Linked DNA regions of Homo sapiens. The protein of the gene in region 1 interacts with the protein of each later gene in a pairwise test. Each region holds a gene or a part of one and is shown in the gene's direction. Other genes may lie near its edges.

Region 1 (3,181 bases):
CTTCTCCCTTCTCTCCTAGTCCATGACTTGCAGAGCTTTGGCCTTGACAACGTACGTACCAGATGGAAACCATGGAGGGCAGGTGGGGGTGGGAGGCTTGGTTGCTGCCTTCATTTCCTTGTAGGAACATCCTGGGATGGGGTAGTGCATATGGAAAAATACACCACGTTCTGAATGGGGATCCAGCCTGAGGGTTAAGCGAGAGTGACTTTTGAACTGAACTCTGAGCAGGCTAGGGGCAAGATTGGGGTTGGATAAGAGCATCCTAGACAGACAGAGCCTCAGCGCAAGGTCAGGCGGGAGCATGGCCCTTCTAAGGAACTGCGGGGCAGGTGTGGATGGGTGAGGCTGGAGAAGTCGGCAGGGACCAGACCACACCGGACTCAGAGGCCACGCTGAGGAATCACATCTTTCTCATGAGAACAGTGGAAAGCTGTTGGCCTTCTTTAAGCAGGATCACGACATAATCAGATTTGCATTTTAGGAAAGATCCTTCTAGTGTCTGAGGCTGATACACAAGGGAGCAGGAAGGGAGTGTATCTGGGGGTTCACAGCCTCCAGCCTAGGCCTCCAGGCAAAGCCAGCACCTGCTACTCTGTGTGCCTAACGTACAAGTGAAGCTGGTATTTTAAGAAATCTGGAACCTGGCCAGGCATGGTGGCTCATGCTTGTAATCCCAGCTACTCAGGAGGCTGAGGCAAGAGAATCGCTTGAATAAGGCGAGGCTGCAGTGAGCCAAGATCATGCCACTGCTCTCCAGCCTGGGCAACAGAGTGAGACCTTGTCTCAAAAAAAAAAAAAAAAAAGAAAAATCTGGAACCCCAGGAGTTTGCAGGCTGTGGAAGGAGGAGTTTCTAGGCAGGGAATGGGGGATTCTTATCTCGGGGAGGTTGTCCCCTTAGGACCATAGCCTCCCCTTCCTCCCACATCTCCGCAGACGGACCCAGGTGTCCCTGTCTGCTACTGTCATCAGAGCTTTGGATGAGCTCTGGATGGTGTTGTTTACAGATCAACATGACCCACTACATCCAGCACCTGTCATTTGGGGAGGACTATCCAGGCATTGTGAACCCCCTGGACCACACCAATGTCACTGCGCCCCAAGGTACCAGCCCGGGAGGCAGCCCCCAGCCGCAGAAGGCCGGCCGGGCACCCATACCCAGTGCTTTGTTTTCCCCTCAGCCTCCATGATGTTCCAGTACTTTGTGAAGGTGGTGCCCACTGTGTACATGAAGGTGGACGGAGAGGTGAGTCAGGGAGCTCCCTACCAGAGTCTCCTGCGCGGTGCCAAGCACTGGAGTTCCTGCATTTCGTTCCGTCAGCCTGGGGAGTGAAAGCTGCCTCGTCCTCACATGGCGAATAAAAGACTGAGGCACAGAGAGGGTGGGGGATTTGCCCTCCCAGGCAGAGTGCAGGCCTGGGGCTGTTAGATTTAAAGCGCCTGCTCTTTCTGCTGCCCTCACCGCTTCTATCCGTTCCTCCGGTGCCCACCGTCTGCCTGCCTCACTGTTCTCTGTGGTCTGCCTGGGCTGGGGGTTAGGCAAGGCAAGTCTCTGTGTACCCGCTCCCAAGGCTGCCCTGGCCTGTGGAGCAGCATCTCAGCAGAGTGGCAGGATGCGAGGGGCTGAGGGCAGAGGAAGTCAGGTCAGCCTTGGTGCGTCTTTGGAGAGCTGCTTCTCAGCCTGGACCCCCGTGAGAACACCCACCAAATGCTGCCAGGATAGGTAAACTGTAAAGACTTGGCACCTGGAGGGGAAGGCTGAGGCCAAGACTAGGAGAGGGGGTCTGGCGGGCCAGGCCTTGCAGTGCAGGCCACTAGCACGGTGCTGTGTTCTCTCCTTACACGGCCAAGGCTCAACAGGAAAGGGGAAGGAGCAGGGGTGGGGCTGATGGTGGCTGGAGCCAGGTCCTAGCCCTAGCCCTGGCCCAGGCTCCCCTCCCACCCCAGGTACTGAGGACAAATCAGTTCTCTGTGACCAGACATGAGAAGGTTGCCAATGGGCTGTTGGGCGACCAAGGCCTTCCCGGAGTCTTCGTCCTCTATGAGCTCTCGCCCATGATGGTGAAGCTGACGGAGAAGCACAGGTGAGGATGGGGGCAAAGCGGCCTCTGGGGGCCTGGGCCTGAGGGAGGAGGATGCCTGCTGAGCCCACCCTCTCCTTCTACCAGGTCCTTCACCCACTTCCTGACAGGTGTGTGCGCCATCATTGGGGGCATGTTCACAGGTAAGAGGCCCAGGGCGTCTGTGAGCTGTGGGGTGGGGAGGGTAAAGCCTGGGTGCCCCAGGTTTGGTTGGGGGTGAAGGGGCAGATGCTGGCCTGGCCAGTTAAGTGACAAGGCTCTCAGCGTCAAAAGCCAAGGCCCCCACTGGGCCAGTGCCAGCCCTTGTCTCTCTCCCAGTGGCTGGACTCATCGATTCGCTCATCTACCACTCAGCACGAGCCATCCAGAAGAAAATTGATCTAGGGAAGACAACGTAGTCACCCTCGGTGCTTCCTCTGTCTCCTCTTTCTCCCTGGCCTGTGGTTGTCCCCCAGCCTCTGCCACCCTCCACCTCCTCGGTCAGCCCCAGCCCCAGGTTGATAAATCTATTGATTGATTGTGATAGTACTCACTGGTCTCCGTGTGATCCTTGCCATGGCCAGAGCCTCATCCTGGCCACTCATTGAAGGCAATTGTGACTGACAGATCGGGGCCCAGAGCCCTCGGGAGCCCCACATGGGCATCCCCTAGTTAACCGGGGTTTATTCAAACCAGGTTCATGTCCAGCCCACAGCCCTGTCCTGGGTCCCTCCTCCACTGTGGTCCTCAGGCCTCTCGGGTTCAGCCCCAGGGCTCAGATGGACCTTTTCAGCGTGAGCTTCCTGGAGCCACCATGGCCCCCAGGCTCATGAGTGATCAACCCCAGGCCACTAATTCAGGGCCCTGAGTGCATATTGGGGCTTGCCACTTCTTCATTGATGGGTAAAGCTGGGGCCGCTCTCCGCCACCCTGGGCTCAATACACCTGATCCTGTCACACTCACTGATCCCACTCTGTGCCAAACCCCACGCTGGCTCTCACTGCAGAGAGGAATCCCTCCAGGTCCTCTGCAGTCTAGATGGAAGCAAAACTGAACACTGAGGTGCGAAAGTAGCAGTCAGTGGCCATTCTGGAGCAGGGCCAGCACCAGACCCCTGGC
Region 2 (3,752 bases), on another chromosome or scaffold:
TGTCTTTATTTAAATGTTCAATATTTTGTTGGTCATAGATTTTTGGCATTAATTTTGGTTTTTAAATATCACGTTAAAATCTTATTTGATTACTGAATTTTGCAACACCCCTTAAATTTTGTGCTACAGGCAAATATCTCACTGGGTTTTACTCTAGTCCTGGCAACAATCAAAACAATAACAACAACAAATATGAAGCAAGAAATGGGGTTTTATAGTGTACTTATTATATACAATTTTTATCAAAATAATACCTAGAATTTCTGAGTGAAATCTATTATTACTAACATGCTAGTCATGTAAACTTGCAAATGAAATAAAAATCATATAAATCTATGTTAAAGCCAAAGAAAGTAAAGTGTTTTTGTAACCATTATGAATATGAAGTTAATGTTCAAATTAATTTGGAAGCTGTTTCTGAAATACTGGCTTTAAGATATTTGTCTACCATGTATCCAACACTAGGGAAAAAAAAAAACCTGATTTCTTTTTTTAAAAAAGGTGACAGATACATTCTTTCACTTTATAAGCCCTATTCAAATTTTCAAAAGCAGCTTATTCAAAAGCAATAGAATAACATTTTCTGATTTTTATACAGTTAAAAAGTATGAGCAGGATTATTTAGACCTTCAGGGTAAAACTGAGTTGTATTTTTTTTTTTTTGGTTTTTTATTTTTTTTAAGATGGAGTCTTGCTCTGTCACCCAGGCTGCAGTGCAGTGGCGCCATCTAGGCTCACTGCAACCTCTGCCTCCTGGGTTCAAGTGATTGTCTTGTGTTAGCCTCCTGAGTAGCTGGGATTACAGGTGCCTGCCACTACGCCCGGCTAATTTTTGTATTTTTTTTTTTATGGTAGAGAGGGGGTTTCACAATATTGGCCAGGCTGGGGGTTTTCCAATTAATGTTTAATTTTATTATATTCCAATGGCCCCAAATGCATAATTTCAAACACTGTCACCTTTATAGGACATGTTCTTTCATTTCTTTTTTACTCTTTATTTTATTTTTTTTGAGACAGAGTCTTGCTCTGTCGCCCAGGCTGGAGTGCAGTGGCGCAATCTCGGCTCACTGCAACCTCCACCTCCCAGGTTTAAGTGATTCTCCTGCCTCAGCCTCCCAAGTGGCTGGGATTACAGGTGCCCACCACCATGCCCAGCTATTTTTGCATTTTAATAGAGACAGGGTTTTACCGTGTTGGCCAGGCTGGTCTTGAACTCCTGACCTCAAGTGATCCGCCCACCTCCGCCTCCGAAAGTGCTGGGATTACAGCTGTGAGCCACCGTGCCTTGAACCCGGGAGGTGGAGGTTGCAGAGAGCCAAGATGATGCCATTGCACTCCAGCCTGAGCCAAACTCCGTCTCAAAAAAAAAAAAAAAAAAAAAAGTCATTTGGTAAAATTTGTATACAGAAGCTTATGCTTCCCTATGGTGAGATTATGTTGTCAGAGTATGACACACAATGGTAATGATGTCATAAATGCCTAGAACACTCTGAACTGTATAAATTCAGTAGTTACCTTAGTAGACAAATCATTTGAACCAAGTTGCGGACATGAATCTTGTTATTTGTGTCCTACTTTTGTCCATTTGGAAAAATAATTGCATGACTACAAACCAAACCAATGGATCTTCTACTACAGGTAGGTGCCTAACCTTAAAACTTGTAAATTATGATCTGTTACAGTATACATTAAAGTATTTAATTAGAAACGCCAGCTGTATTTAAGAAATCTGCTGTTACTTTTAGCAGTGTTAACATTAGTAGGTCTTCAAGAATTTCTAATACAACAGCTGATATTAAAAAACTTAAGCAAAATATAAGCATCAAGATGACAGACTTATGGTCCTCCTTTACCACCCTTCCCCACTCAATATACCAACCTGTCCCCACCAAACTAGCTAATACTATATAAATGAATCTGGCAAGGGACTTAACATACAGTAGGGGTTTATTTTTGTTTTTTGTTTTTTTTACTTCAAGTTCTGGGATACATGTGCAGAACGTGCAGGTTTGTTACATAGGTATACATGTGCCATGGTGGTTTGCTGCACCTGTCAACCCATTATCTAGGTTTTAAGCCCCACATGCATTAGGTATTTGTCCTAATCCTCTCCCTCCCCTTGCCCCCAACCCCCACAACAGGCCCCAGTGTGTGATGTTCCTCTCCCTGTGTCCATGTGTTCTCATTGTTCAACTCCCACTTATGAGTGAGAAAATGAAGTGTTTGGTTTTCTGTTCCTCTGTTAGTTTGCTGAGAATGATGGTTTCCAGCTTTACCCATGTCCCTGCACAGGACATGAACTCATTCTTTTTTATGGCTGCATAGTATTCCATGGTGTATATGTGCCACATTTTCTTAAACCAGTCTATCATTGATGGGCATTTGGGTTGGTTCCAGGTCTTTGCTATTGTAAATAGTGCTGCAATAAACATACGTGTGTATGCGTCTTTACAGTAGAATGATTTATAATCCTTTGGGTATATATCCAGTAATGGGATTGCTGGGTCAAATGGTATTTCTGGTTCTAGATCCTTGAGGGATTGCCACACTGTCTTCCACAGTGGTTGAACTAATTTACACTCCAACCAACAGTGTAAAAGCGTTCCTATTTCTCCTCCCCTCATCAGCATCTGTTGTTTCCAGACTTTTTAATGATCACCATTTTAACTGGCATGAGATGGTATCTCATTGTGGTTTTGATTTGCATTTCTCTAATGACCAGTGATGATGAGCTTTTTTTCATATGTTTGTTGACCACATAAATGTCTTCTTTTGAGAAGTGTCTGTTCGTATCCTTCGCCAACTTTTTGATGGGGGTGTTTGTTTTTTCTTGTAAATTTGTTTAAGTTCCTTATAGATTCTGGATATTAGCCCTTTCTCAGATGGATAGATTGTAAAAATTTTCTCCCATTCTGTAGGTTGCGTGTTTACTCTGATGATAGTTTCTTTTGCTGTGCAGAAGCTCTTTAGTTTAATTAGATTCCATTTGTCAATTTTGGCTTTTGTTGCCATTGCTTTTGGTGTTTTAGTCATGAAGCCTTTGCCCATGCCTATGTCCTGAATGGTATTGCCTAGGTTTTCTTCTAGGGTTTTTATGGTTTTAGGTTTTACATTGAAGTCTTTAATCCATCTTGAGTTAATTTTTGAATAAGGTGTAAAAAAGGGATCCAGTTTCTGTTTTCTGCACATGGCTAGCCAGTTTTGTCAGCACCGTTTATTAAATAGGGAATCCTTTCCCCATTACTTGTTTTTGTCAGGTTTGTCAAAGATCAGATGGCTTTAAATGTGTGGTGTCATTTCTGAGGCCTCTGTTTTGTTCCTTTGGTCTATGTATCTGTTTTGGTACCAGCACCATACTGTTTTGGTTACTGTAGCCTTGTAGTATAGTTTGAAGTAAGGTAGAGTGATGCCTCCAGCTTTGTTCTTTTTGCTTAGGATTGTCTTTGCTATACAGACTCTTTTTTGGTTCCATATGAGATTTAAAGTAGTTTTTTCTAATTCTGTGAAGAAAGTCAGTGGTAGCTTGATGGGAATAGCATTGAATCTATAAATTACTTCAGGCAGTATGGCCATTTTCACGATATTGATTCTTCCTATCCATGAGCATGGAATGTTTTTCCATTTGTTTGTGACCTCTCTTATTTCCTTGAGCAGTGGTTTGTAGTTCTCCTTGAAGAGTTCCTTCACATCTCTTGTAAGTTGTATTCCTAGGTATTTTATTCTCTTTGTAGTAATTGTGAATGGGAGTTCAC

The links.
Region 2: the proteins of ERGIC3 (region 1) and CXorf66 interact in binary tests that used the Homo sapiens proteins (3 or more experiments, as listed by UniProt).

What each region holds. Positions count from the first base shown.
Region 1 is NC_000020.11:35,555,025-35,558,205, forward strand, and holds the end of ERGIC3 (endoplasmic reticulum-Golgi intermediate compartment protein 3), read left to right. Parts: intron 1-19; coding exon 20-51; intron 52-1,008; coding exon 1,009-1,105; intron 1,106-1,182; coding exon 1,183-1,247; intron 1,248-1,948; coding exon 1,949-2,085; intron 2,086-2,169; coding exon 2,170-2,225; intron 2,226-2,400; coding exon 2,401-2,480; 3' UTR 2,481-2,610; downstream 2,611-3,181. UniProt on the Homo sapiens protein: Possible role in transport between endoplasmic reticulum and Golgi. Positively regulates trafficking of the secretory proteins SERPINA1/alpha1-antitrypsin and HP/haptoglobin.
Region 2 is NC_000023.11:139,963,295-139,967,046, reverse strand, and holds the start of CXorf66 (uncharacterized protein CXorf66 precursor), read left to right. Parts: upstream 1-1,525; 5' UTR 1,526-1,550; coding exon 1,551-1,638; intron 1,639-3,752.